5 linked regions of the Homo sapiens genome follow. The protein of the gene in region 3 purifies or fractionates together with the protein of the main gene of each other region. This does not show direct contact. Each region holds a gene or a part of one and is shown on either strand. Other genes may lie near its edges. The genes, in order: SUPT5H, PC, PPT2, MRPL23 and IARS2.

Region 1 (6,057 bases), on a different chromosome or scaffold from region 3:
GGGCATGGCAGGACCCTGTGCGTTGGGTACCTGGCTCAGCTCTCCAAGCCTCCTCTGGCCCCAGAAGTGATAAGATTGGGCTTGTGAGGGATTAGGAGAGCAGTGTCATTGTCAGGTCCTTGGCAAAGAGTGAGAAGGTTTATTTGGGATTCTGAGCTGTTCACCAAGTTATTTTAAGTTATTTATTCATTTCATTTTACTGAGCACCTGTTAGGTGCCAGACACTGGAGAACCAGTGGTGAACAAGACAAAAATACTCTGCTCTCACAGAGCTGATACTCTAGAGGTGGACAGACAGATAAACCCATCGTACAGCTTGAGGTGATAGCAAGCGCTGTGAAGAAAACAGAATGGGCTCAGGAGACAGGGAGTGACCAGGGCTGCTGTTTTAGACAGAGGAGGGTAAAAAAGGCCTCAGTGGGAGGCAGTATTGGAGCAGAGACCTGAATGAAGGGATGGAGAGTGAGCATTTTGGGGGAACAGCAAGTGCAAAGGCCCTGAGGTGGGGCTTGTAGGAAAGTGTGCAGGACCAGCTGTCACAGAGGAATTCAGGCCTGGGGTGTGGGTGGCTGGGTGGTCTCCTCAGGGCCCTGCACGTGGGATGATGAGTTCCTGTGGTTTGTGGTTCCCCCATCCCCTGCCTGCCAGTTCACTCCTTGCTTCTATCCTAGCCCCGTGATGTGACCAACTTCACCGTGGGTGGCTTTGCGCCTATGAGTCCCCGGATCAGCAGCCCCATGCACCCCAGTGCTGGAGGTGAGAGGGGTTCAGGGTCAGGGGATGTGGTGGGTAGAAGGGGCTGGAAGGAACTTGGTTGTTCAGCCTACACTCACTGAGTGCCTGTGCTGGGCTGGGCACTGCTATTAGGGGTTCACCACCCACAGGAGGGTAGACGCCACAGTGACAGCCCAGAATGGTCAGGGCTTCCATAGGAAAGCCATGGGGCAGGGGTGGGCAGAGGAGGCTCTTAACCCAAGTAGGGAGGAGTCAAGCAAGTGAAGGGGACGTTCTGATGGTGCCCTTGCTGTGGGCACAGCCGTGGGGGACCAGTGACATTCTCCCCAATCCCCAGGTCAGCGTGGCGGCTTTGGTAGCCCAGGTGGCGGCAGTGGTGGCATGAGCAGGGGCCGGGGCCGGAGGGACAACGAACTCATCGGCCAGACCGTGCGCATCTCCCAGGGGCCCTACAAAGGTGACCTGCGAGGCCTGTGGAGGCCTGGGGAGGGGCATGGTGAAGGAGAGCCTGCCCAGCCTGACCTCCTGTCCCCCTGCAGGCTACATCGGTGTGGTGAAAGATGCCACAGAGTCCACGGCCCGTGTGGAGCTGCACTCCACCTGCCAGACCATCTCTGTGGACCGTCAGCGGCTCACCACGGTGTACGGGCGGGGCCTGGGGAGGGCCAGGGTGGGGCTTGCTAGGCAGTGAGAGGGGTCTGCTCACCCCATTTGTTCTCTGCGTCCCCAGGGGCTCACGGCGCCCGGGCGGCATGACCTCGACCTATGGGAGGACGCCCATGTATGGCTCCCAGACGCCCATGTATGGCTCTGGCTCCCGAACACCCATGTACGGCTCACAGACACCCCTCCAGGATGGTGAGTGCCCGCAGGGGACAGGGAAGAGGGGCTAGGGGGACCTAGAGAAGGGACAGGACAGACACACTCATTTCCCCCATTCCAGGTAGCCGCACCCCACACTACGGCTCACAGACGCCCCTGCATGATGGCAGCCGCACTCCTGCCCAGAGTGGGGCCTGGGACCCCAACAACCCCAACACGCCGTCACGGTGAGTCCAGGGTTCCCCAGGTTCTGGTGTGTGCTGGTGTGTGTGAGGGATGATGCTGGGTGTCTGGGGCATTGGAGGGGTTTGTGGGGCCCACCCAGCATTCTCTGCTCCTAGCCTCAGGCTGGTCCCTTTGAAGGAGGAGGCATAGCATGGCGGGGCGGGGGCAAAGCGGCCTCCTCTCCATCCCCAACCTCAGTAGTGATTGTGGTTACCCTTGGGCCTGGAGAAAGACTGCCTGGGTGGAGTGACCTTGGGAGGGCACCCTCATCTCTGTCAACCACAGTGTCAGCTGTGGAAGGGAAATAACATCAGGAGTGCCTCTGGATGGGGCTCCCGTGAGAATGAAATTGCTTCAGTTGGGGGTCTGGTGTAGGGTGCTGTTCTGGAAGCATCCATCGCATTATCACCACAGTCGCTGTCAACAGACTTTTCTCCCAACAGGGCTGAGGAAGAATATGAGTATGCTTTCGATGATGAGCCCACCCCGTCCCCGCAGGCCTATGGGGGAACCCCCAATCCCCAAACACCTGGCTACCCAGACCCCTCGTCCCCACAGGTCAACCCACAATACAACCCGCAGACGCCAGGGACGCCGGCCATGTGAGTCCACTGGGGCCTGCCCTCGTCTACCCCTGCCCAAACCCTCCTACTGCCACCACCTCTTTTCCCCTCCCTCCTCCAACAAATGCCCCCTTCTCTCCTGTCTCTGCAGGTACAACACAGACCAGTTCTCTCCCTATGCTGCCCCCTCCCCACAAGGTTCCTACCAGCCCAGCCCCAGCCCCCAGAGCTACCACCAGGTGGCGCCAAGCCCAGCAGGCTACCAGAATACCCACTCCCCAGCCAGCTACCACCCTACACCGTCGCCCATGGCCTATCAGGTAATGGTCTGCCTGCCTGCCCTGAAGGGTGGTGGGCTAGGGTGACTTTGGGCATATAGGGTCGGCCAGGCCAGATGACTATTCCCAATGACACTTCCTCTTTCCCCTGCAGGCTAGCCCCAGCCCGAGCCCCGTTGGCTACAGTCCTATGACACCTGGAGCTCCCTCCCCTGGTGGCTACAACCCACACACGCCAGGCTCAGGCATCGAGCAGAACTCCAGCGACTGGGTAACCACTGACATTCAGGTGAAGGTGCGGGACACCTACCTGGATACACAGGTGGTGGGACAGACAGGTGTCATCCGCAGTGTCACGGTACGTGGGGCCCAGGGTGGTGGGTGAGCAGGCATCCTCTCCTTGGTACCCCCTAAACTGGAGACAGACCTGTCCCCAGATGGTGACAGCCCAGAGTGGGCAGAGCTGGGATTGAGGAAGCCTAGAGGGCAAGGGGAGCTATGTGAACCCAAAGGAGGCATCTTACCTGATTTAGCGGGGAATCAGGGAGGGCTGCCTGGGGAAGGAGAAATCTGAGCCAAGACCTGACAAATGAATAGGAGTAAGCTAAGGAAAGTGACTGGGGTGAGTGAGTTCCAAATGGAGGGAACTGCATGTGCAGAGGCCTGGAGGTGAGGGGAACCTGGGCACATTCCAGGAGCTGAAGGGTTTGTTGTGGCTGGAACATAAAGAGCCAAAGGGGGCCAAGCAGTGCTTCACACCTGTAATCCCAGCACTCTGGGAGGCCGAGGTGGGCAGATCACCTGAGGTCAGGAGTTCAAGACCAGCCTGGTCAACGTGGTGAAACCCTGTCTCTACTAAAAATACAAAAAAAAAAAAAAAAAAAAAAAAAGCTGGGCATAGTGGCGCATGCCTGTAATCCCAGCTACTTGGGAGGCTGAGGCAGGAGAATCGCTTGAACCCAGGAGGTGGAGGTTGTGGTGAGCCGAGATCGTGCCACTGCGCCCCAGTCTGGGTGACAGAGCAAGACTCCTCAAAAAAAAAAAAATGGTGAGTGATGAGGCCAGAGAGTTGGCTGGGGCCCTGTCATGCACCAGCCTGGAGGACCTAGACTGTCCAGAGGGCGCCGGAGAGCCATGAAGGAATCTAAGCAGGAGAGGGGTGGGAGCAGATCTGTGGTATGGAATTCTCCATCAGTGATGGATTGGGGGTGGGGAGACTGGGCTGGGACCCCAGGGGGAGGTTGGGCTGCACTGGGGCAGGGCTGTGGGGAAGAGGCAGGAGGCAGGTGGGAGAGACCCTCACGGGCTGAATGGCCAGGCCTCAGAGCTAGGGGCTTGTTGGTGAGGGAGGTGACCAAGATGAGGTCCAGAGCTCTGGTGGGGCCTGCAGACCATGGGGCGGTCCCTGAGACCAGGTCCAGGAAGAGGAGCAGGTGTGGGGAAGACGCTGAGGCCAGTTTGGGACATGAAGAGTCAAGAAGCAGTCTCCTTTTTGCCTGTTAGCTTCATTCTGATGCTTCCCTTGCTGATTGGGTCACCCTGTCCACCCTGACATGCACCACAGGCCCCAGGCCTTGGAACCAGGCCCAGCCTTGGCCTTTCCTGCCCCCATTTCACCTTGAGTTCTCAGAATGAGCCCTGAGCCTGTGTCCCCTGGAGTATGGGCCTCAGTCCCATGTTGGGAGCAGGACAGGCTGACCAGGCTGTCCCCATCCTCCAGGGGGGCATGTGCTCTGTGTACCTGAAGGACAGTGAGAAGGTTGTCAGCATTTCCAGTGAGCACCTGGAGCCTATCACCCCCACCAAGAACAACAAGGTAAGGGCAGGGGGCAAGGAGATAAGATGGGGCCGTTGGGTGCTGACATGGACCCTGACCATATTCCCCCCACCCCCAGGTGAAAGTGATCCTGGGCGAGGATCGGGAAGCCACGGGCGTCCTACTGAGCATTGATGGTGAGGATGGCATTGTCCGTATGGACCTTGATGAGCAGCTCAAGATCCTCAACCTCCGCTTCCTGGGGAAGCTCCTGGAAGCCTGAAGCAGGCAGGGCCGGTGGACTTCGTCGGATGAAGAGTGATCCTCCTTCCTTCCCTGGCCCTTGGCTGTGACACAAGATCCTCCTGCAGGGCTAGGCGGATTGTTCTGGATTTCCTTTTGTTTTTCCTTTTAGTTTTCCATCTTTTCCCTCCCTGGTGCTCATTGGAATCTGAGTAGAGTCTGGGGGAGGGTCCCCACCTTCCTGTACCTCCTCCCCACAGCTTGCTTTTGTTGTACCGTCTTTCAATAAAAAGAAGCTGTTTGGTCTAAAAGTGCGTGTGTGTGTGTGTGTGTGTGTGTGTGTGTGTGTGTGTGTGTGTATGCCGTGGGAATGAGGGTGTTGTTTTTAAGTGGGGTCATTTGCAGACCCCACTTCCTTGCTTTGTGGTTGGGGCAAATAACTGGACCCTACCTAAATCTGTTTTCCCATCTAGATAATAGTGATAGTGCCTGCCCCAGAGAGCTCTTGAGGGGAGTGTGTATGAGAAGACGTCGGAAGGAGATGATCAGAGTAGAGCTTGTCATGTGATTGATGACATTATATCTTATTCAGGCATGAATTATGCTAAGTGAAAATCACAGTATCCCCCAGGAAACCTAAATTCCTCCTGTGGTGCAGGATACAGTGCTTGATGGTCCTTTTTCTTTGTTTTCTCTTTATTTTTATTTTTTTGAGATGGAGTCTTGCTTTCTCACCAGGCTGGAGTGCAGTGGCACGATCTTGGCTCACTGCAACCTCCGCCTCCCGGGTTCAAGCGATTCTCCTGCATCAGCCTCCCCAGTAGCTGAGATTACAGGCGTGCACCACCACACCCAGCGAATTTTTTTGTATTTTAGTAGAGACAGGGTTTCACCATGTTGACCAGGATGGTCTTGATCTCTTGACCTCGTGATCCGCCCACCTTGGCCTCCCAAAGTGTTGGGATTACAGGCGTGAGCCACCGCACCTGGCCTTTTTTTTTTTTTTCCTCCCCTGAGACAGAGTCTCTCTCTGTCATCTAGGCTGAAGTTCAGAGGTATGATCTCGGCTCACTGCAACCTGTACCTCCTGGGTTCAAGCAATTCTCCTGTCTCAGCCTCCTGAGTAGCTGGGATTACAGGCGTGAGCCACCACGCCTGGCTATTATTATTTTTTTTTTTTTGTACTTTTAGGAGAGACGGGTTTCACCATGTTGGCCGGGCTGGTCTTGAACTCCTGACCTCGTGATCCGCCCGCCTCGGCCTCCCAAAGTGCTGGTATTACAGGCGTGAGTCACTGCACCTGGCCAATGATCCTTTTTTTTTTCTTTTCTGTTTGAGGTGGGGTCTCCCTCTGTTGCCCGGGCTGGAGTTCAGTGGTGCAGTCATTGCTCACTGCAGCCTCAACCTCCTGCGCTCAAGCGATCCTCTTGCCTCA
Region 2 (6,057 bases), on a different chromosome or scaffold from region 3:
GCAGGCAGGGGCCAGCCCTGCCTCTATTCCCACGGACCTGCTGCACCTGCCTGAGCAACCCTCTAGCCTTTCAGACTCATCCACGTTCGTTCCACAGCACGGATTGAGGTCTGCTGACCCGGCCGCTAAAGGGCCTCGCCGTGGGCTCCCAGACAGCGAGGGGACGGCAGGCCGGCGACAGGGCCTCCAAAGGACCATGTGCGAGGCAAGAGGCAAGGCTGACCGGGGGTTTGTTTTTGTTTTTAACAGGGTGGTGGGGAAGGCCTCAACATCCACCCATGCTCCCTTCCTTTCCTTTCCTTTCCTTCCAGAAGGGAGGATGGGAGGGAGAGGAGGCAACGAGGAGGAAGTGGGAGAGGAAATGAAGGGAAAGTGCCAGAGGCAGGGTCCACACCCATCAGGGAAGCAAACCAAGGGCGAGGAGAGGGCAGCGGGGCAGCGGGACAGGGCCAGGGCCAGACGGCAATGGGAGGGGCAGCGGAGAGGAGGAGACAGAGGCGCCGACACTCACACACACAGGTGGCTCGTGCCGCCTGCACCTGTTCGTGCCGCCCGAGTGAGCCCCGCAGAGAAGGGCTCCCCGGAGGTGGGGGACCCGTCAGGCCCAGGTAAGGAAGAAGGGGAGTGGGGGGACCGCCCAGAGGGGCTCGGGACACCCACTGCCCATTTCCGCTTCTCGGGGGCAGAGGCCTGTGTTCAATAAAAAGGAACTTCATAAAATATTTAAGGGTGAACACTCAGCTGAGAGCAGAAACTGTCGGCTAAAAATACTCTGTGATGAGGCAGGCTCTGAAGAGCCAGGGCTTGGAAGTGGGGATGGAGGGAGGCAGAGAAGTCAGGGGCCGCCGGGCAGCACTCAGCCTGGGGCTGCCGCCACCTACAGACTCTTCCAGAAACAGAAGGCAGGTGGCCAGCTCCCTGCTGAAGCCACAGGCTCTGCTGCTTCCAGAATCCAGAGAGCTCTGGTCCCTACCCCCAGCCTCCCCAGCCTCCCTTGTCTCAGAAGCCCAGAGCCTGGCCCAAACTCATGTTTGCTCCCCTCACCGCCCCACACAAGCCCGGGGGCCTCTGCCTTGGACTCTGGAGCAAAGCTGGAGCTCCATCAATGTCTTGCCTCCTTTGGGGCTCAGGCCCCTGGATAGGGAGCAAGTCCCTAGCACAGCTGGCACGGTGCTGGCAGCACGTGCAGGGCTGGGAACAGGCACCGAGCAGGCCGCAGGGCTCCTGCCCACAGCTGGGACCAGAGGCGGGGGAGATGGGTTTCGGAGGCCAATGACTGGGTCCCGGTGCTGAGAGGAAGAAAGGTACAGGGAGCCCTCCTGGAGAAGGCGCGAGTCTTGCTGTGCTGAGGAGCCTGCCGTGGACCGCCTCAGCGCCCCCTACACCACTCTCTCCCCCACCAAGGCTGCCATCTCGCGGCCCCGAATCTACCTCTCGGTCTCCCTCCTGTGCCGCCATCTCCGACTCCCTCCCCCATCCTTGATGGGCCCCTGAGCTTGGCTCAGACTCCATTGGGACCTCTGGGCCCAGTCCTTTGCCACCCCCACCCCCAGGTCCTGCCATGTCAGCCCATCCCTCAGATGGGAGGTGGTGCTTGGGCTCCGTCGGCAGCCAGGCGTGGGGCTCCTGTGGGAGCTGGAGGGTCAGGGGCTGGCTTTGTGTCTGGGTCCCTGCGTTTTGCTCCACCAAGCCAGCCTGCTCCCCGCTCCCACCCTCACGGCTTCCTCCTGACCTGGGCGCCCAGCAGTCTCTTCCCCTGGGAGGCGCCGCCCCTCCTCTGGGCACTGCCTGCCTCCGTGTACTCTATGTCCACTTCAGAGCCCACATGCGGGTCCTCCCTAACTGCCGGGCTGTGGCAACTTGGCACTGCAGCCCCAGGCACCAGGCAGAACCTGTGCACAGGTGAGCTGGCATCTCCCTCTGCTCGAGCTCCGCCCACCTCAATGCGGCCGGTGTCCGGCTGGAAGCTGCGCGCGGGGTCCTCGGTGGTGACCCGGCACTGGATGGCACACCCGTTGATGCGGATGTTCTCCTGCCGCAGGCCCAGGTCGGGTAGGCTCCTGCCCTCAGCCACGTGGATCTGAGCATGGACCAGGTCTACGCTGTAGGGCATTGGGGGGAGGGGGGAAAGGACGGGAGAAAGGGGGAAACATGAGGCGGGGGATAGACGAGGGGCACCGCAGCCAGTGGGGCGTCCACACACAGTGCGACTCCTGCCCATAGGCTCTGGGCCAGCCTGAACAGCCGGTTCCTCCCAACCAGTGGCTCCACCAGCCCCTGCCCTGCTCCCGCCGGGAGCCGACTAAACTACACAGTGCCTGGCAGCTGGAGATGGCCCGCTGAAATACCAGGACCACCTGCTCCTGCATTCCTGACTCACGGTGCCGTCCACACAGCCCTAAGCTGCTCCTCCCTGTACTCTGCCTCCTCCTTCCTTGAGGTCTGTTTTCCCCACTCCCCTAAACTCCCCCTTGGTAAAGCCTAGATTTGAAGCCTCAGCAGATCTCTAGGTCAGAGGGCCAGGATAGCACATTCTTGGGGCCATATGTGCTATGCTGTGTGGGTGGTTGTGAGGGGGGCAGTGTGCAAGGGAACAGGTGCTGTGAAGGCTGGGCTCCTCGAAATGGTAACCACAGCTGTGAGAGGGTTGCACAGTGGGTGCTGGGTCAGGACCTGTCCTTCTGAGGCCTGTTTTCCTGCTGGACTTGTGCCCAAAACCCCCTAGAGATGCTTGGAGAGTGCAAGCTTCCCCACCTCTGCAGGGTTTTCCAAGCTCAGCCTTACTGCTCCTAAGGGCAGTCACAAGTCCAAGTGGAACAGCTGTTTAAAAAACAAAACAAACAAACAAAAAAACCAGGCTGGGCACAGCAGGTCATGCCTGTAATCCCAGCACTTTGGGAGGCCAAAGTGGGTGAATCCCACGAGGCCAGGAGTTCGAGACTAGCCTGGCCAACATGGTGAAACCCTGTCTCTACTAAAAATACAAAAATTAGCCAGGCCTGGTAGTGTGTGCCTGTAATCCCAGCTACTCAGGAGGCTGAGGCAGGAGAATCACTTGAACCCGGGAGGCAGAAGTTGCAGTGAGCAAAGATTGCACCACTGCACTCCAGCCTGGGTGACAGAGCAAGACTATGTCTTAAAAAAAACCACTCAAGGTTTTACATGTATTGCCACTGAGGCTTGTGGTGAAGGCAGCCTGGAACCTACACTGGCAGGATTTCCCCGTGTTCTTGCTGCCTGCTGGCCCACTTCGCAGCAGAGATGACAGCTTCCACTCAGTGCCACAGGCCAGGCTGCACTCCTCCCATGCTTCATCTCCACGACGGTGTGCTGAGAGCCCTGTCATTCCCACCAGAGGAGGAGCTCGAGGGTCAGAGAGGTTGGAGCTCACCCAGGCTCCACGTGGCTTGGGACCTGAGAGCACCTGAGCCCCAATCTGTCTGACACAAAACCCGTGCTCCACAGCAGACAGACTCCCATCCCTAACAGGACGCTCTAAGCAGACCCAAGACCGAGGAGTTCACAGCAGCTTGAGGGGAAGAGTCTCACTCGGCCAAAGTGTTGGCCTTGTCTCTAAGCTTCTCCTAAGGGGAGGGAGGGGCCTCCATGCCCCCGGCGAGCCACAGCAGCCACCCCGACAGCATCCTCAGTCTCAGGTGGGGTTGGGGCTGGGGGCAGAACTGGGGTCAGGGATGCTCCACAGTGAGATGGGCTGGCCCAAAGCAGCGTCAAGAAATTACATGGCTCATAGTAGAGACCTTGAAGGGTGAGGGCCATCATGACTGTCATTTAGAAACCAGGCGGATTTTGAAAATGTCATCCTCAGTGCCTGCAGGGAGCACGCTAGTGCCACCTCTCTAGAGGGCTGTTCCGAGGGATGCTACTTATCCTTCAATCAGATAATCCTGTTGAAGGGTTTACCCTCAGAACTCTTCAGAGCTGAAGCCAAACATTCAGGCACACAGATGATAAGTGACACGCTTAATAACCACCAAAGCCAGACACACAAACTAATTGCCTAACAATCGAGGACTATGTAAGTTAAGAAATACACACAAGACGGAATAGTACGCAGCCACTAAAAGTATTCAGACAGAATTATGGCCTGGGGAAATGCCTTCAACAAATATTAAATAATTTGAAAAGTAGAATAAAAATTCTATATAAAACATCTCTATTGCATCAAACTATGTCTCTAGTAAAACAGGTAAACCGGGAAAGGAGCAAACCAAAGACAGCCGGAGATGCCTGGGTTCCAGCGCCAGCTGTGTGACCCCGAGCAACTCTCCAAATGTCTCTGAGCCTTGCTTTACTCCTCTGACAGATGGGAGCACCTGGGCCTGAGCAATCGGCAGCGTCCTGACAGAGAGGAGGGCTGTCAGTCATTTTTATTTGCTCCTTTGTGCTGATTTTTATAATAACCACGTAATGCTTTTAGAATAATGACTTTTAAAACACTAAGTACCTGGATCCCCATTGCTCTCCACCAATGTGGGGAGTGAGCAAGCCCCCTGGCTGGCCCCAGGAGCCACTTCGCCTGTACTTTATGCAAATCCTAGAAGCCGCGCCTCCCGCCCCGCCTGCCCGCCCACACTCACTCGGTGATCTCCTCTGTGACCGTGTGCTCCACCTGCAGGCGGGAGTTGACCTCGATGAAGTAGTGCTTGCCGTGCCTGTCCACCAGGAACTCCACGGTGCCTGCGTTCTCGTAGCCCACCTGTGGGGGCGGCCACGTGAGCAGGGGAGGGCACAGGCAGGGCCTGGGCAAACTCACTGGACTCAGGACAGGGATTCCGTCCCACCCATTGGGTTGGTTCCGTAAAAGAATGGCCTGTGGCAAACCCTGCCCCCACAGATGGCAGACAGACCCCAGGGCCCAGGTCATGCTCCTGCCTGGACACGTCCCCCAAGTAGTCCACTAGGCTCCAGGGTTCCCGGAGCCACAGATGGCTGCACCCAGCTTATCTGGGACGAGACATGGGCAGAAGCCCCCACCCATCCCAGGCTCGGCACCTTGCCCTGCTGCCTCCTGGGCTTGCCCGCCAAGGCTGTGTCATCCACCCAGACACGGAGACCCAGGCCTCTCCCAGCCGCTGCTTCTGCTTGGAGGTGTTTTCAGAAAGTCCCCTTCTAGTCTACTGCGCAGTCACCTCTGGCCACCACCACCCAAAGAAATTCATTTGAGAGGTACCAACAGATAATGACTCTAACTCAAATTTCAGCCCTAATTCCAGTTTCACTTTTGGTCTCACCAAAACGATAAACCAGACTGAATCACCTCCCTTAAACCTGTTCTGGAATGTGAAATAGTATAAGCCAGTAAATAAGACCTGACTTAAACGCGACCCTGGTCGATGCCTCGCATTAGCTGTGGCTGAGGCCTTGCTGCAGAGTGCACACCCCGGCCTTCGGCATGGGGAGGTGACGCATCCTCTGCTGCCTATAGGCCAGGGAAGAAGAGGGGGCAGGACCCCGCTGCACACCTGGCCACAGCAGGTGCTCTCCAGGCCAGTCCTGGGGCAGGTCACTGTGGGGAGATAGCTTGCCACCTCAGCCTCCTCCACAGCCCAGGACCCCCCGACCAGAGGTCCCAGAAAAGCAGAGATGGGCAGAGGGTGCAGAGCAAGGAAACAGATCATAATAAACATGATGTAGGAGACAGAAGCACATGAGGGAGGACTGCCTTCATAATGGTCCTCAATCTTGACAGAATCCACGGAATCTCATTCTCCTGATGACAGGGATGAGCTGATGCCACAGAGAAGCCAGGTCTGTGTAGCAGCAGGGCTGAGGAGGCGGCTGGGGCTCCTTCCCTCCCTCTTCTCAGCCATCCTGGACTCTAAGCTTGGCCTCTGGGCCAGGTGCCTCAACTGCACATGGGAAGGATGCCACAAACCCACTTCTGGCCCCCAGGAGAGTCCTTCACCCTCTTCTCCCCATCCCCAGTCCCCAGAAGGGGACTCAGGGTCCCCTTCCCCAACCAGCGCCCCACTGTGAGGCCTGCCGGCCTGTGAGCACAGGCTCCTGTCCCAACACGGGAAGCCCACCCTTCACCTG
Region 3 (6,057 bases):
AAAAGGAAAAAAGAAAGGAAGAAATCAAGGTGGGCTAAGGTCCCAAAGGAACCCAAGGCCTACTGGGGAGACAGGTAGCAGGGAGGACACTCAAAACTACCTTACTGGATATAATGTACTTCATGAGGTGATACACTGAAGATACGACCTCACTTCTGTAGAAACCCCATCAAAAATGCATTACTGGCCGGGCGAGGTGGCTCACACCTGTAATCCCAGCACTTTGGGAGGCCAAGGCCGGCGGATCACCTGAGGTCGGGAGTTCAAGACCAGCCTGGCCAACGTGGTGAAACCCCATCTCTACTAAAAATACAAAATTAGCTGGGCGTGGTGGCTCAAGCCTGTAATCCCAGCACTTTGGGAGGCCGAGGAGGGTGGATCATCTGAGGTCAGGAATTCGAGACCAGCCTGGCCAACACGGAGAAACCCTGTCTCTACTAAAAATACAAAATTAGCTGGGCGTGGTGGGCGCCTGTAATCCCAGCTACTCAGGAGGCAGAGGCAGGAGAATTGCTTGATTCTGGGACGCAAAGGTTGCAGTGAGCCGGGATGGCGCCACTGCACTCCAGCCTGGCGACAGAGTGAGACTTTGTCTCAAAAAAAAAAAAAAAAGAGGCCAGGTGTGGTGGCTCATGCCTGTAATCCCAGCACTTTGGGAGACCAAGGAGGGTGGATCACCTGAGGTCAGGAGTTCAAGACCAGCCTGGCCAACATGGAGAAACCCCGTCTCTACTAAAAATACAAAATTAGTTGGGCATGGTGGTGGGCGCCTATAATCCCAGCTACTCAGGAGGCTAAGACAGGAGAATCACTTGAACCTGGCAGGCGGAGGTTGCAGTGGGCCGAGATTTGCCATTGCACTCCAGCCTGGGCAACAAGAGTGAAACTCCAACTCAAACAAACAAACAAACAAAAAGATACTAAAGAGACGTAACAAGATCATGCAACTCAAGATCCTGATTTGGATCTTCCACTGTATATTTTTTTCTGTAAGGACAGTTGGAAAAATTTGAATAATCTGTGAGCGCATATTCAGGAAAATTTGAATCTATGTTTATATTTAAATATAACATTAACGTATATAAATAAATGTATATATATTTAGAGAAAAAAGATATTAATGTAAACATGACAAAATGTTAACATTTGCGAAATCTAGGTGAGGAGTATAAATGACTGCTTTTTGCTATTTTGGTAACTTTTTTTTTTTTTTTTGAGACAGGGTCTTACTCTGTCACCCAGGCAGGAGTGCAATGGTGAGATCTCGGCTCACTGCAGCCTTGGCCTCCTAGGCTCAAGCAATTCTCGTACCTCAGCCTCCCAAGTAGCTGGGACTACAAGGGCACACCACCACGCCCAGCTAATTTTTGTATTTTAGGTAAAGACAGGGTTTTGCCATGTTGCCCAGGCTGGTCTCAAACCCCTGGGCTCATGCCTCGGCCTCCCAAAGTGCTAGGATTACAGGCGCAAACTTTTCTTAAGTATGAAATTATTTCAAAATAGAAAGGTCTTAAAATCCTTTTTTTCTTTTTTTTTTGAGACAGAGCCTTGCTCTGTCACCCAGGCTGGAGTGCAGTGGCACCCTGTCGGCTCATTGCAACCTCCGCCTCCTGGTTTCAAGTTCTCCTGCCTCAGCCTCCTGAGTAGCTGGAACTACAGGCGTGCGCCACCAGGCCCACTAATTTTTGTATTTTTAGTAGAGATGGGGTTTCTCAATGTTAGCCAGCTGTTCTCGAACTCCTGACCTCAGGTGATCCACCCGCCTCGGCTTCCCAAAGTGCTGGGATTATAGGCGTGAGCCACCGCACCCAGCCAGATGGAGTTAAAATCTTTTAATTAAAAAATATTGGCCAGGCAAGGCCGGGTGCGTGGGCTCACGCCTATAATCCTAGCACTTTGGGAGGCCGAGGCGGGTGGATCACGAGGTCAGGAGATCGAAACCATCCTGGCTAACACAGTGAAACCCCGTCTCTACTAAAAATACAAAAAAATTAGCCGGGCGTGGTGGCGGGTGCCTGTAGTCCCAGCGACTCAGGAGGCTGAGGCAGGAGAATGGCGTGAACCTGGGAGGCAGAGCTTGCAGTGAGCCGAGATCACGCCACTGCACTCCAGCCTGGGCGACCGAGCGAAGACTCCAACTCAAAAAATATATATCTATCTATATATAGAGAGAGATATATATTGGCCAGGCGCAGTGGCTCACGCCTGTAATCCCAACACTTTGGGAGGCCGAAGCAGGCGGATCACAAGGTCAGGAGATCGAGACCATCCTGGCTAACACAGTGAAACCCCGTCTCTACCAGAAATACTAAAAATTAGCCAGGCATGGTGGTGGGCACCTGTAGTCCCAGCCACTTGGGAGGTGAGGCAGGAGAATGGCTTGAACCCAGGAGGCGGAGGTTGCAGTGAGCCGAGATTGTGCTATTACACTCTAGCCTGGGCGACAAGAACAAAACTCTGTCTCAAAAAAAAAAAAAAGGAAGAAACAGTGACTTGGAACATGAAAAATGTTATATAACCATGAGCTATCACTGTCATTCATAGGGTTGTGGTAGATGTGAAATGACATGATGTACATAAAACTCATCACTTACTATTATATTATTACAATATTTTAAGAGATGTCCTGCCTTCACTGAAAACTGTCCAGTGCCTTCCCATCTCACTCAGAATTTAAAAAAAAAAATCAAAAGCCTGGTTACCGGGACTGTCGGGAAATAGGGATGAGGATATATATATATATATATATATTTTTTTTTTTTTTTTTTTGAGATGGAGTTTCGCTCTTGTTGCCCAGGCTGGAGTGCAATGGCGCAATCTCAGCTCACTGCAACCTCTGCCTCCCAGGTTCAAGCGATTCTCCTGCCTCAGCCTCCCAAGTAGCTGGGATTACATGCATGCATCACCACACCCAGCTAGTTTTGTATTTTTAGTACAGACAGGGTTTCTCCATGTTGGTCGGGCTAGTCTCGAACTCCCGACCTCAGGTGATCCACTGCCTCGGCCTCCCAAAGTGCTGGGATTACAGGCGTGAGCCACCACACCCAGTCTATTTTTTAATGGGTATACGGTTTCAGTTTGGGGAAAAAGAAGTTCTGGAGATGGATGGTGCTGATGGGTGATGGTTTTACAATGATGTGAGTATACTTAATGCCACAAAACTGTACATTTTTAAATGGTTAAAATGGCAATTTTATGTTATGTATATTTTATCACAAAAAAAAGAAAAAAAAATATCAAGGGCCTTACCTTGACCTGCTAAGGTTTGACATGCCTGGTCCCCTGCTACCACTTTTAGCTCCTCTCCTGTCCTCTCCCCAGCTCCTTGTGCACTAGCCATGCTGGCCTCCTTATTGCTCACACGTGCTTCAGGGCCTCTGCAGGTGCCAGACCTTCTCCCTGGGGGGTTCTTCCACCCAGAGCACAACTCCCTCCTTCACTTCCTTCAGTCTCTAATTGAATGGTGACTTTTCCAGGAGGACTTCTTCGGCCACTATTGAAACTAGGCCCCGGACATCCTCTAATCCTTTCCCCTGCCTTATTACCTGACATATATATTTGTATGTATGTATCAGCTATCTTACAAACTAGAATATAAGCTACATAACATTAGGGACTTCTCTTTTATTTACCACTGCATCCCTAGGGCCCAGAACAAGCCTGCGCCCATAATGTTGAATAAATATTTGTTGAGCAATTCAAGTAGCTCAGGTGACATTACAGATCACACATGGTGACCTATAACACAGGCAAGCACATAGTACCATGGAGCCATGGATTTTTTTCTAAGGAATAGGATGGAGGGGACAAAGCTGGAGGCTGTTATAATAGTCCAGGTAAGTAAAGAGGTGGTAGGAAATGTGATAAAATGGTATAAAACTACACACACACATTGAACCAATGTGAATTTCCTGGTTTTGATACTGTGCTATAATTACATAGGATGCAACCACTGGGGGAAGCTGGGTGAAGGGCCTTGCTATACTATCTTTGCAATTTCCTATGAATCTATAAGAATTTCAAAATTAAAAGTTTTTATAAAGTGGGGGAGGGGGTGATAGGGATGGAGAGGAGAAGAGTCAGCAGGACTTAGTGACTGGCTTGATACAAGGGGTTGGGATATGACTCCCAGGTTTTGGTCTTGGGTGACATGATGAATGGGGGGAGGAGCACTAACTGAACAGTGGAAGGAGCAGGCCAGTTTAGGCATGAGATAAAGACCAACTGGGGTTGGGGGATGTCTTTAGCCAATCTTCAGGCCACAAAATCCCTTATTACCTGGACTGCCAGGGAGTAATAACACCATCATCAGGGCCCCCAATCAGCACCAGGTGGCCCACACGCAGAAAGTTCTTCCGCCATACTGTAGGATGGGAAGAAGAGAGGCTGAGTCAGCCACAGGGGTCAGGCCAGGTTGGAGAGGGAGACATAGGGAGTCAAAGAAGCAGAAAAAGCAACACAGGTAGGAGCCTGAATTCTCACCTGTGGCATTGGGATGGTCTCTTTCCCCATTGATCAGGGCCAGGAAGCTGCTGGCATTGAGGTACAAGTCATCGTGGTGGGGATCTGGGTACAAACAGCAGTTAGAAAAAGAAGCAGAAAAGGGAGGCAAGACTGGTGGTGAAAAGCCCAATAAGGAAGCTGCAGCAATAGTCAAGGTGGATAGTAATAAAATAGTAGTGATAATGTAGGCCAGGTGCGGTGGCTCACACCTGTAATCCCAGCACTTTGGGAGGTAGAGGCAGGTGGATCACTTGAAGTCGGGAGTTTGAGACCAGCCTGGCTAACATGGCGAAACCCTGTCTCTACTAAAAATACAAAAGTTAGCCAGGCGTGGTGGTGCATGCCTGTAATCCCAGTTACTCGGGGCGCTGGAATCACTTGAACCCAGGAGGTGGAGGTTACAGTGAGCCGAGACTGCACCACTGCACTCCATCCTGGGAGACACAGTGAGACTCCATCTCAAAATAATAATAGTAGTGATAACAACCGTAAACATAGTAACAAGTACTTTTTTTTTTTTAGATGAAATCTCACTCCGTCACCCAGGCTGAAGTGCAGTGGCAGGATCTCCGCTCACTGCAACATCTGCCTCCCGGGTTCAAGCAATTCTCCTGACTCAGCATCCTGAGTAGCTGGGATTACAAGCGTGTGCCCACATTCAGCTAAATTTTTTTTGTATTTTTAGTAGAGATGGGGTTTCACCATGTTGGCCAGGCTGGTCTCGAACCCGACCTCAGGTGATGCGCCCACCTCCCCCTGCCAAGATATTGGGATTACAGGTGTGAGCCACCACACCTGGCAATAGCAAGTACTTCTATCTAGTATCTACTATATGAGCCAGGTACTATTCAAAGTACATTGCATTCATTTATTTATTTAATCCTTACAACCACCTGGTGAAGTACATGCTATAATATTTTACAGATAAGGAAAACTGAGTAACAGAATGGTTAAGTAACTTGCCCAAAGGCACCCAATAGGGTCAAGATTCAAACCCAAGTATTCTGGCCCCATGGTCTGGTCTAGAGGTTGGCAAACTGTGACCAAAGGACCAAATCCAGCCTGCTACTTGTTTTTGTAAATGAAGTTTTACTGGAACACAGGCACATTCATTCACATATGGTACATGGCTGCTTTCACACTACAACAGCAGAATTGAGGAGTTGTGAAACAGACTATATGTCCTACAAAGTCAAAAATATTTACTCTCTGGCCCTTTATAGACAAGGTTTGCTGACTCCCACATCAGACTAAACCTTCTAAGGCAATAAGGTGACACACTTAAAACATTCTGGGCCAGGTGCAATGGTTCACACCTGTAATCCCAGCACTTTGGGAGGCCGAGGCGAGTGGATCACCTGAGGTCAGGAGTTCGAGACCAGCCTGGCCAACATGGCGAAACTCCATCTCTACTTAAAATACAAAACTTAGCCGGGCATGATGGCGCCTGCCTGTAATCCCAGCTACTAGGGGGACTGAGGCAGGAGGATCACTTGAACCTGGGAGGCGGAGGTTGCAGTGAGCCAAGATGGTGCACTGCACTCCAGCCTGGGC
Region 4 (5,941 bases), on a different chromosome or scaffold from region 3:
CAGGCCCAGATCCCACCCTGCGAGGGAGGTGTATGCACCCTGATCCCTGGCGCAGAGCGCAGGGGCTGGCGGGGAGAGTGGCACTGCGTGCGCCGTAGCCGGCCTGCAGGAGGATTGCCTTACACAGCTCTGAACTTTGCGTCTTTTAAAATACCAAGGGGCAGTCGTTTACACGTGAGGCTGACTGCCCAGAATGGGAGATTCACCTTGACTATATGGAGGTGATTCTGCTAGTTTTCCGAGGCAAGGGGAACCCAAAATGACAGTTTAAAGCACAAACATGGCCATTTGTCACAGCTTCGGGAAGAAATGGGGAAAGGTGCTGAGAGAAAATCCGTTTCTTACAGGAGACAAACACCGTTTGGGGATGCCAAGCATGGTTTCCCAGGGGCTTCCCCTTTCTAGAAGAGTTCACCTTGTACCTAAAAAAAAAAAGCCCTTGATCCTTCCAAAAAGGAGAGAGACAGCTGATCGGGGTAAAGAACAGGAATGGAGAAAAATGTCCCAATGACAAGTAAACAAGGCAGCCCTGCCTTCAGGAATCCCAGGGCGCCCTGGGGGCTGCCGCCTGCCTGGACCTGGAGGCCGGAGCCCCGAGCACGGAGCTCGGCCCAGCTGGCGGCAGCGGTTTGTTCTGGAGTTGCCTCTCATGTCGTGCGCCCTTCATTCCTGCGCGCCCTTCATTCCCGCGCTGCTCAGCATCCACACAAGCCTCGGGGCAGCGGGCAGTCAATGGTCTTTTTGTTGTGTGGGTCACTGAGGCGCTGCTTTCAGCTCCCAGGACTTTGGGCCAAGGAGATGCTTATCAGGTTGTCGGAGAAAGAAATGTGGGACTCCCGCCACGTGGGACAGGGCCTTTCCACAGCGGCCAACTCCAAATAACGTGGATAATTTTACCTTTCCAATGCTCCCTCCCTGGGCTTTGCAATTAGCAGTGATTCTAAGCCCTGGCGCAGGGCCCAGGGGGACACGCTGAGCAAGGTCTCAGCAGACACGAGACAGGAAAGGGCCTTGAGAGTCCCCTCTGCGGGCAGACAGGGACCAACGGCCACGGCCCATTTCTAGGCTGTGCAAAGATGTGCTGGAGTTCAGGAAGGGGGGTGAGGACCCGTTACAAATTTTCATTCTGGAACAGGAGGATCCATGCCCAACTGGGACCCTTCAGGCTCCCAGTTGCCCTGCCCTGTCTCTGGCTGCCTGGACTTCACAGAGGGAGAACAACACGCGGGCAGCAGCTGCAGACACCGGATCCCGGAGCTGCTGGGTTCAGTTTTCATGGGAGGTGGGGCCCAGAGGAAGAACGCAAGGGCTCGGATGACTTGAATGCCACTTGTAACCGTAGCTGCCTCTGAAGTGCCCGTGGCGGTGCCGGCACACGGGATGTCCACCCACATGCCATGACAAAGACAGATGGGCCCGACTGACACTGAGCACACAGAGGCCTTTATGAGGCCAACGGCTGCTCTCCCCACCTGGATTGGCTGATTTCATGCACAGCAAATATCAGGCCAAATTATTCCGGGGGCCCCTGTTTAGAACAACAAATGTGACTGTTTTTCAGAAAAGCTGCCATGCTAACTTGGCCTTTTTCACAAACTGCCTCCTTAGCCCCACAACAGGCCGGCTGGCCCAGGAGGCGGTTTCCACCATCGTGTGACTGCCATCTAGTGGCAGGGCCCGCCGGCTCGGCCTCCAGGGACCATTTACACCGGAAGACAACCCCATCCCCACCCAGTAAGGCCAGCCCCAGGGGCAGAGTGGGGAGGCCCAGGAGGCGGCCGGGGCAGGCTGTGGACATCTTGGCCCAGAGAGAAAGTGCCTCTGGGTTTGCCTGGGACTCAAAATGAAGAGCCCAAAGAAAGGCTTTGAAACTGTGGGTCTCACTCCTGACAAGTCTGGGTTTCAGAAACTGAAGGCCCAGGCAACGTGGGGTGAGGGTTCTTCCTCCCCAGAGCCCCCCAGGATACGTAAGAAAGCACCTGCTCAGAAGCAGCCTGCTGAGCCCTAACAAGTACGTGGGACCTGCTACCCTGCAATGCAGGACATGGGCCTCAGCCAACAGCCCGGCCAGCCAGACCTGCCTTGGCACCAAAGACCTTTGCCCTCAGGGGCCTCACACTCTGCCTCCGAGGCTGAAACCCAGCCAAGGACAGGCTCTCCAGAGGCCGGGGCCTCCCATGCTCTGACACCCTGGTGTGCGTTGGAGTTGAAACCCACTAGGCCTGTGATGGCTGCCTTTGCCCACAGAGAATTCAAACTTCAAAATCACAAAACGGCCGGACGCTGAGACGTGCCCCATGTGCCCCAGTGCTCACGTGCTCCCAGCGCCACCACTAACACCCCCAAGGCCGTGACGGAGCATGACCTTATGTGGAGCCTGCCTCTGCGCTGAGGCCCTGAGATCCGGCCTCACGGGGGCTCCCTGGGCCCCAGCGCAGCGTCTCCGGCACAAACATCCCCAAGGACACAGTTGCGAGGAGCCCCTCGGAGGCCCCGCTGGGGCTGGCCAGCTCACACGCACCAGCTGCACGTAGGCGACCTTGTAGTCCGGCTTCTTGATCCTCACGTTTCTGTGATCTCTTCTCTTGTTAGAGCCTGCCGGAAGGGAGTGAAAAAAAAATCAGAACTTTAAAAAAATCAGAACTTTAAAAAATTACATCCTCAGAGGTCAATGCCACTAAAACGAACCTCTGCTCTCTTAAAAATGTAAATATGTTTTTAAAAACTCAAAAAGGCGATTTCTCAGGGAAATGGGCACTGTAATCAAACGAGCCAGCACAGCAGGCTCCCAGGCTCCTCCCTTCTCCCAACAGAGGCCAGCAGGTTCTCAACAAAGGAGCGGACGTGGCACCAGCCAGGGCACACGACAGGGGCTTATGGAACAGACAGCGCTTTGCTCCCCAGCCTCAGCCACTGCAGTCCCACCTCGGGGGCTGACGGCAGGAGTCAGGGCTCAGAATGGACCCCGGGCCAGCCCAGTTGAATTCCAATCCCTGCTCTGGCACGTAAGCACCGTGTGACCCTGACAAGTCACCCTGTGCCTCAGTTTCCCATGAGCCACGTCAGACCAAGACCCCCATGCAGTAGCTGAGGCTGTGGCTCGGCGAGGTGGGCATGTGGCACAGATGGGCACGACACCAACAGGAGAACCTCCCATGGGCACTCACCATGCTGCACCCGTGTCCGCACAGCAGCCACGGGCACGTTATAGATGCCCTCGAGGTAATTCCTGAGGTCCACCCTTGTCATTCTGGAGGCGAAGGAGAAAGAAAACGGCATCTTAACCAGGCTAAAAGCCAAAAATACTGTCCCAGATGCACAAGCACCCGAGGCTGAGAGGCCGACAGACCAAGACCCACAGGGGGCAGGGAGGAGGGCTGGGTACATCAGCGGCACTAGTGAGGCCAGGCAGCCCCAGCAACACCAGTGCTGCTGGCTGCAAGACTCCCTACTCTGGGCACACCAGCATGGGGTGGCAGTGGCACAGACCCCACAGAGTGGGAGCACTGCCCAACCAACCCCTGGCCTGCTCCACAGCCCCACATGGCTCCCTGCTCCGGGCAAGTGCCTGTGAGAGGAGGTGACAGTCTCTGCACGCTCCTGGCTGGCAGGTGCCCCACCTCGTCTGCCCCGGGGCCCAGTGGCCGCATCAGGGTTAGGCCTGCTCTGCGGCTGATGGGACTGATGCGGTTCTAGGAAGTACCTTCTGGAAAGGCCTGCCTGGCATTCGGTGCGTTAACTGCAAGTTCCCTCTACTGCAGAACCTCACGGTCACTGTCAACTCAGCTTCTGGGCCCCTGCAGGCTGCACAGGCCTGACCTTCGCCCCCAGGGGAGCTCACGCTGCTGCCCCGCCTGGCTCGCATCAACCCTGAGCTGGGGACCTGTGAACTTAAACACTGCAGAGCAGCACCCCAGTTTTGCTCGTAGGGACTGTGCATTTCTCTGAAGGTCAAGCAGGCTCTTCTGAGCGGTTCTGTACATCACGGCCTGCTCCCAACCCAGCCTCTCAGGGCGCCTCTCCTAAAAAGAAGCTGCAAGAACTCAACAGAAGACGCGAGCACAGAGGTCCAAATTTTAAGGCTTCCAGTGAAGCCGTCCCCGGGTGGAGGGCGGCGTGCAGCCTGCCTGCCGGGCTCCACACCTACAGGCACTCCATCAATACTTGCCGGGCAGGGCCGCCTGAGGTGCCTTCCCAGCAGGAAGAGGCTAGCACGTGAGCAGAGTTGTTTTAACTCAGGACCCAGGCCCCCCTGAGGGCACTCTCCCAACCCAGCGGGAAAACTTCCGGGCTCACTCCACGGGGATCCCCCCGAGGGTGCTCCCCAACCCCAGCCGGAATCCTCCCGGACTCACTCCATGGGGATCCGGAACTGCACGGTGTCCTCGGGCTGGGCCACACCGGGCCGCACCAGCTGAATGAAGAAGTTGGTTCGGAACACCCGAAGTTGTGGGCCACCCAGCCGGTACAGGGGGTACCTGTACAGAAGAGATTGGGTCCATGTCACACACTTAGGCCAAGGCAGCCCGACACACCAACCCTGCAGACCTCCGAGTGTCCACTCACAACAGGGTGGGCAGAAAAGGGGGTAGCTAACACTGCGGATCCCTGAGTGTCCACTCCCAACAGTGGTGGGCGGGAAACGGGGTAGCTAACCCTGCAGACCCCCGCGTGTCCACTCCCAACAGTGGTGGGCGGGAAACAGGGTAGCTAACCCTGCAGACCCCCGCGTGTCCACTCACAACAGGGGTGGGCGGGAAACAGGGTAGCTAACCCTGCAGACCCCCGCGTGTCCACTCACAACAGGGGTGGGCGGGAAACGGGGTAGCTATCAGCAGGTCACCACCCAAGGACACAGAGGTCCCCACAGCCCCTTTCTCACATGGGCCTGCCAAGGTGGACGGCCAGTCCCTAGCATCGACTTAAGGAGCATGCGCTGTTGACCCCCAAGGTCAGACTTTAGAAAAGGCCAATGGACAAAAATCAGAACCCCGCAGACAGCATTCCCCCAATAAGCTGATGGCAAGGCTCAAAGACGTGTGTTGGGGCACTGATACCCCTGGGAGAGCAGACCCCACGCGGCCGGCCCACTCTCCTGCTGCTCGGGTGAAGTGGAGCTGCAGAGAACCACACACCATGGGACAGAAAAGGCCAGCTCCGCACTCTCCCGGTGGCAGCAGGGCCTAGCTCCTCGGTATGGAGAACGCAGGCTAACCAGGCTTAGGCTCCTGGAAGACGGTGCTGCCAAGACTCTGATTCAGTACACTAAATGTGAGTTGAGTGCACCACACCCCAGCACTCCACTAAAAGCCAGCAGAGGCAGATGGAGAGGTGCCAAGTGGCCACCGCAAACTAGACCAGCACGCTGCCTGGGCTGGGGGGCCAGGTGACGATCGTGCAGAATCTCTAGCCAGTTGGTTTCGTGCATTCTCCCACGTTCAGCTGGGTGGACAGGCAGCACCGTCCTACCGTCCCCCACCCCCGTTCCCGCCCCTGCCACTGCCGGCACACCCTGGCTCTATCTGGGCCTCAGAGCTGGGGGGAGGAGGGGCACAGGAGAAACTCAGGCCTGCTGGGTCTCGGGGGATGTGGGGTCTGAGAGCCTAGGTGCAGGTCTTGGTGGACGGGGAGCACAGGGGCTCTTGAGGGGTCTCTGGTGGCCTTATCTGAGGCACTGCACATGGCCCTGGCCTTGGGAGCACCCAGCACCAAGTTAAGAGGGGCTCCGTGAGGCCAACGCTGCCCCAGGCTTCACATGAATTTCACGCTGGCCTCTGCCTGTCTAGGGAAGATGAGGAGGAAGTGAGGGTCAGAGGCCTTGGGTGGGGTGTTCCTGAAGGGCCAACAGTGGTAGGCAGCACTGAGCCTCTGGGCCTGAGGGCCTGGCAGGGGCCAGGAGCTGCTGGGACCTCTCAGAGGCAAGGCGCCTGTAACAAAGCCC
Region 5 (6,057 bases), on a different chromosome or scaffold from region 3:
AAGCTGAGACAGGCAAATGAAAATGTAAGTCATCACAAGCAAAATATGCTCCTTTCAAAAATATGTTTCAATGAGACAAATACAAAACAGGCAATATGCAAGAACTCCTGGGAATCTTCCAAATGTCATTTCTGGATAACACATTTGACTACACTCAGAAAATACTATTTTACTCTGAGAACTACGAAAGGACATTAATTAAGGAAAGAATGAGATTGTAAATAACAAAATCACACCATTTTAACAACAGCAAACAGTGGACGTCACCAACAATTCATTAGTGTTCCTTCATTTATGCCTCATTTATTTTTGATTTGGGCAAAATTGGTATGTACACCTCTGACTTAAGGGTACACTAATGCAAACACATTTCCAATTATGAGAAAACACAATTTTTTTTTTTTAAGACAGGGTCTCACTCTGTCAACCAGGCTGGAGTGCAGTGGCACAATCACAGCTCACTGCAGCCTCAAAACCATGGGCTCAAGCGATTCTCCTGCCTCAGCCTCCCAAGGAGCTGGGACTACATGCACTGGCTAACACGCCTGGCTAATTTTTAAAATTTTTCTAGAGATAGGTTCCTGCTCTGTTGCCCAGGCTGGTCTTGAACACCTGGCCTCAAGCAATCCTCCCACCTCGGCCTCCCAAAGTAGTAGGATTTATAGGTGTGAGTTTCCACACCCAGCCAGAAAACAGAAATTATTTAAGTCTATATGAAAATGAGTAAGTATCTTATGAGACAAATAGGATAGTCCATTTTGGTTATTTCTGTACTTTATTATGAGGAGCACATGTGCAGATAAAGTATAACTCCACTTTATTCCTTCTTGTTGGAAAAATAGAGCTAATCATGAGAGAAAAATCTGGTCCGAGGGGAAGTCTGGACATATTTCTCTTCAAGAGTGCTATAGTTACTATTTCCAGCAAGGTCTGTTCCACTCAGATAAAACTAAAATTTTAACCTACAATAGTGCTGATATTTCTAGTTTCCAAAAGTTTATTAATTTACATTTACCTTGTTTGCCAAATCCTGCAGTAAGTGTAGCATGTACTGGTCTATGACATACATATCGTTTACAGGGATGGAATCTGTTTCTGGGTTGAAATCAGCCACATTTCCCAAAAGAAAGCGAAGTGTATTCCTAAGCTATTCATAGGAAGAAAAAATATGCAGTTAAAAAAATCTAATGGTGCCTTCAATTTTCACTGAAAAGTTATTTTATTACTAACTCTTGTCATTTTCTTAGTGGGGTATTTTTATTATCATTCCAAATAAGACTACAAATGTAAAAAAATAAAAAACAAAAAGTACACAACAAACTCTTATTCCAATAGCCCAGTTATAGGAACAACCACTGGATTTTACGCCTAACGACTGAATTTTCATTATATTTCTTTATTACGTTGGGGCAAATCACCTTTCAGTAGCCCAGTTTATTCATGTGTGTGGGTCAGAATAATGTTATTTCACTTGCTTCACAATGAAATAAAGATACATGGAAAAATGTGAAAGGTTATTGAGTACATAAAAGTATACAAAATTAATATAATCTATACTATGCTATATTACATTTTATATATTAATAAAATATAAAGGATATTATATACAAATTATATAAAATTACTGGTATTACTACCAATGTTTTGAAACAAATAAATTTACACAGGAGTTTTTTGTTTTTTTTGAGACAAGGTCTTGCTCTGTCGCCAGGCTGGAGTCCAGTGGCGCGATCTCGGCTCACTGCAACCTCCGCCTCCTGCGTTCAAGTGATTCTCCTGCCTCAGCCTCCCGAACAGCTGGGACTACAGGTGCATGCCACCATGCCCAGCTAATTTTTGTATTTTTAGTAGAGACAGGGTTTCACTATGTTGGCCAGGCTAGTCTCGAACTCCTGACCTCGTGATCCACCTGCCTCTGCCTCCAAAAGTGCTGGGATTACAGGCATGAGCCACCATGCCTGGCCAACACAGGAGATTCTTAAAATCTCACAATAAATGAAGAACTCGTTTTCATTCAGTTTTTTTCAGTTCCAAACAAAATGTGTCTCATTTTTTAAAACAATGATTTGACAAACTTGTCCTTTAGAAATAGGAAGAATAATAGTTCTAACCTTGCTAATATCATCTCTGGCAGCATTGAGCACGGATGGGCCAATTGCAACTTCGGTGAAGACATTGGAATCAGCTACCCACCAGCGAAGGACATCAGCACCATACGGAGGCTCTTTGCTTTGATCCTTTTCATTGAGAAAAAAATATATAAACACAATGGCTTTCAATTCCAATTAGCCGAACAAATGTTTTAGGTAAAGCTCCTATTCAGATATTTTTGAGCACAATGTAAGTACAAACTATACTAGCACTGTAATGAAATGCGGGCTAACAATCTCAAATTAGACTGTATCTAAAAACAAAACTGGAAAAAGAAAGAGCGTGCTCTGCAATCTTGTTCAATGCACAAATGCTCATACCTAATCTCTTCCCTGGTCATGTCTGTTTCCTCTATTACAGCTGGTGGTTAGACACACAGCAGTGCCAGGGAGGTCTCTATAATAAGGGAGGGGAAGAGGAAGGACTGCTTTTCCTTTCACTATTTCCTAGCAACTCTGTACACAAAACAATGAACGGTTACAGGATGTTAGGCGGGCAGTAAAAAGCTACAGGAGTTAAAAAATAGAAAAAAACAGACAAATGATTTAATTCACAAAAGCAGCTCCAAAAACCCCCCCAAATTATCAGCAACCTCAGATTTGATGTACATTTAGGACCTGCTTTAAAGTGTATAATTTTCAACAATATAATAATGAAATGCGCATTTTGAAGTTGCAATCTCATTTTTCATCATTTCCATTTAACTACACAATCACACTTTACATATTCTTTTTTCACTTCAGACAGCAATGTGCCAACACTGTAACAAGGTTTGAGGGAGGCACACCTCACACAATAGTGCGAAAACCCAATCATCACGCTTACGAATCACAAAAGGATCTACACATTTTAAAGGCTCTCAGACAATTAAAAAAGAAACAGCGTGGTTTGGGACCTAACTGGAGAGTCAGGCCTGAAATAAGTTAAAAGGACCACAATCCCAGCCTCTGCCTTCTTCATTACAATCATGTGTTATTTGAGAGTATAAAAGATAGTTTTTATTTTTACATTGAAGTAACTATATTAAGGGCTTTGGCTGCCAATTTAAGATCCTTAAAACGAAAATAAAATACATTTTAGAGAATCACCTACTTGTCCTCCATTAACGACAACATCAGGATGAATGACATTCCCAAGAGACTTGGACATCTTTTCTCCCTTTTCTCCAAGGGTAAATCCATGAACAATCACTGTCCTAAAGGGACAAATCAGCTATTTTAATGATAAACACAATTATAATTATCTTTTTGAAGATTAGGTACAGCTTAAAAAGAGTATCTAAGTTTGACACAAAAATATGATTTTTCTTGACTGATTATGAATAAAACCTTTTCTTTTCTTTTCTTCTCTTTTTTTTTTTTTTTTTTTTGAGATGGAGTCTCACTCTTGTTGCCCAGGCTGCAGTGCAGTGGCATGATGTCGGCTCACTGCAACCTCTGCCTTCCAGGTTCAAGGGATTCTCCTACCTACGCCTGACCTCAGGGGATCCACCTAACTCGGCCTCCCAAAGTGCTGGAATTACAGGTATGAGCCACCCTGCCCGGCCGAAACCTTTCCTTAAAAGTCAAATTCGGCTGGGTGCAGTGGCTCACGCCTGTAATCCCAACACTCTGGGAGGCCAAGGCAGGCAGATCACTTGAGGCCAGGAGCTCGAGGCCAGCCTGGCCAACATGGTGAAACCCTGTCTCCACTAAAAATACAAAAATTAGCTGGGTATAGTGGTGTGTGCCAGTAGTCCCAGATACTTGGGAGGCTGAGGCATGAGAATCACTTGAACCCAAGAGGCGGAGATTGCAGTGAGCTGAGATCGTTCCACTGCACTCCAGCCTGGGAGACAGAGTAAGACTCCATCTCAAACAAAAAAAGTCATTCTTAGCTCATGTATCACAATAGTCAAACAGTTAACTCTCGACTTACACAAAGGAAAACTTTAGATATTTTCATCACTAAACAGATTATTTTCTGAGCTTCTGCTATGTACTGATTTTATCATTAAAACTAACCAGGTTAGAAAGAGCAAACTACAGAGACAGCAAGGAGATCAGTGGTTGCCAGGGGCCCTGGGGTGGGAGTGGAGATTAGTCACAAATGGGCATGAGAAAACTTTTTAGTGTGTTGGAAATGTTATAAAACCTCTTGTGGTGATAGCGGAAAAACTATATAACTCACTAAAAAAAAAAAAAAAAAAAAATTTTAAATGAAAAAATAAAACCAGGAAAAAGTATGTCTTAAAAAGAGCAGATTATCATCTCAAAATTATTTTCAAAAGACAATTTGAAAAAAATAGGATCTGCCCTTTTACTGGTCTTTAAAACGCATGTTAAGAAACAAAAACATGTAAAAGGGCCAGGCGTGGGGGCTCACGCCTGTAATCCCAGCACTTTGGGAGGCTCAGGAGGGTGAATCCCTTGAGAGCAGGAGTTTGAGACCAGCCTCACCAACATGGTGAAATCCCGTCTCTATTAAAAGTACAAAAATTAGCCGGGCATGGTGGCATGCTCCGTAATTCCAGCTACTCGAGAGGCTGAGGCAGGAGAATCGCTTGAACCCGGGAGACAGAGGCTGCAGTGAGCCAAGATCGCACCACTGCACTCCAGCCTAGGCAATAGAACAAGACTCCATCTCAAAAAAAAAAGAAACATGTGAAATGTTCTGGGATGGGTTTTTATCCTAAGAGAGCCACAATCTTAAGCTAAGCTATTTAGGAATCTTTCTGATTAGTACTTTCACCCACACGTTTGAAAAAGTAATTATGTGTACTAAATGAGAATACCTAATTTAATAAAATTCATGAAAGCAATGTTTCAGTTCACTAGCCACTGTGGATATTACAAATATAAAGGACATCTGCACTCAGGCTGTCTTCTCTCAACCTTGAATATCCTTCCCTACATTCCTCCTAGTCAAGTTTTACCATAGATCAAGATCTAGTTCTAGGCCAGGCATGGTGGCTCACGCCTATAATCCTACCACTTTGGGAGGCCAAGGCAGGAGGACTGCTTCAGGCCAGGAGTTTGGGACCAGCATGGGCAATGGGAGGAGAACGCACCTCTAAAAAAAAATTAAAAATTAGCCAGGTGTGGTGGTGCATGTCTGTAATCCCAGCTACTCAGGAGGCTGAAGCAGGAGGATTGCTTGAGCCAAGGAGACGGAGGCTGCAGCGAGCTCTGACCACACCATTGCACTCCAGCCTGGGTGACTGAATGCGATCCTTTTTCAAAAAAAAAAAAAAAAACAACAACAACAAAGAACTACATAAGTTCCCCCAACTACTCCAGTCAATGCTGACTTTTTCTTCAAAGAGTTATGATCTGCATCACACTCACAAGACACCTTGGTGTTGTCTCCTTTTTCCTTTCTCTTTTTTTACTTCAAATTCTTACAGGACACTGTAAGCAATCAAGAGTGGTGCCTTATCATCTCTGTAGTACTCAGCATAGTGCTTCACACACTGGCAGGTACTCAGCAGGTTGGTTCAGGCATAAATACTTACTTATAAGGTGCTCTCTTCCTTGCTGCCACACTTGTTAATAAGGATGACTGAAACCAACCCCCGAGCTGGTCTTTTCCTTCCAAGTACAAATCTGCTCTTTGGTCAGGACCTCAAAATTAAGTATTAAAAGAAAAAAAAACCCAGAAATTTAAGTTAATTAAAATAGAAAAAGAAGATACTTATTAATAACAATTAGTGGGGAGGAAGGGAAGTAACTTTACAATAGAGAAAACTGACAGATGCCACCTTAACCAAGAAAGTGACCAAAGTTACACATCACCAGTAGTAATGGGACAGAGATGTATCACGTGACTTCTGAAATGATGTACTGAAATAAACACAGTATCCTTTCTGTGATATTCCTACCTAAAATGCATAACGTGGATCTAATCATGACAATGCATCCCACAAAC

The links.
Region 1: the proteins of PPT2 (region 3) and SUPT5H fractionate together in Homo sapiens (co-fractionation; one large-scale study listed by BioGRID). This does not show direct contact.
Region 2: the proteins of PPT2 (region 3) and PC fractionate together in Homo sapiens (co-fractionation; one large-scale study listed by BioGRID). This does not show direct contact.
Region 4: the proteins of PPT2 (region 3) and MRPL23 fractionate together in Homo sapiens (co-fractionation; one large-scale study listed by BioGRID). This does not show direct contact.
Region 5: the proteins of PPT2 (region 3) and IARS2 fractionate together in Homo sapiens (co-fractionation; one large-scale study listed by BioGRID). This does not show direct contact.

The regions. Positions count from the first base shown.
Region 1 is NC_000019.10:39,471,738-39,477,794, forward strand, and holds the end of SUPT5H (transcription elongation factor SPT5), read left to right. Parts: intron 1-671; coding exon 672-756; intron 757-1,072; coding exon 1,073-1,192; intron 1,193-1,274; coding exon 1,275-1,377; intron 1,378-1,465; coding exon 1,466-1,593; intron 1,594-1,678; coding exon 1,679-1,784; intron 1,785-2,225; coding exon 2,226-2,384; intron 2,385-2,496; coding exon 2,497-2,665; intron 2,666-2,777; coding exon 2,778-2,981; intron 2,982-4,343; coding exon 4,344-4,439; intron 4,440-4,518; coding exon 4,519-4,662; 3' UTR 4,663-4,933; downstream 4,934-6,057. UniProt on the Homo sapiens protein: Component of the DRB sensitivity-inducing factor complex (DSIF complex), which regulates mRNA processing and transcription elongation by RNA polymerase II.
Region 2 is NC_000011.10:66,864,248-66,870,304, forward strand, and holds part of PC (pyruvate carboxylase, mitochondrial precursor), read right to left. Parts: coding exon 6,055-6,057; intron 4,718-6,054; coding exon 4,599-4,717; intron 2,103-4,598; coding exon 1,940-2,102; intron 1-1,939. UniProt on the Homo sapiens protein: Pyruvate carboxylase catalyzes a 2-step reaction, involving the ATP-dependent carboxylation of the covalently attached biotin in the first step and the transfer of the carboxyl group to pyruvate in the second.
Region 3 is NC_000006.12:32,156,146-32,162,202, reverse strand, and holds part of PPT2 (lysosomal thioesterase PPT2 isoform a precursor), read right to left. Parts: intron 4,567-6,057; coding exon 4,483-4,566; intron 4,364-4,482; coding exon 4,279-4,363; intron 1-4,278. UniProt on the Homo sapiens protein: Catalyzes the cleavage of thioester bonds from S-palmitoyl-CoA or S-palmitoyl-N-acetylcysteamine (unbranched structures) but does not have activity against palmitoylcysteine or palmitoylated proteins, branched structures or bulky head groups.
Region 4 is NC_000011.10:1,949,436-1,955,376, reverse strand, and holds part of MRPL23 (large ribosomal subunit protein uL23m), read right to left. Parts: exon of another isoform or gene 5,901-5,941; intron 4,479-5,900; coding exon 4,356-4,478; intron 3,251-4,355; coding exon 3,168-3,250; intron 2,596-3,167; coding exon 2,522-2,595; intron 1-2,521.
Region 5 is NC_000001.11:220,134,098-220,140,154, reverse strand, and holds part of IARS2 (isoleucine--tRNA ligase, mitochondrial precursor), read right to left. Parts: intron 5,754-6,057; coding exon 5,645-5,753; intron 3,347-5,644; coding exon 3,244-3,346; intron 2,992-3,243; exon of another isoform or gene 2,889-2,991; intron 2,238-2,888; coding exon 2,112-2,237; intron 1,148-2,111; coding exon 1,016-1,147; intron 1-1,015.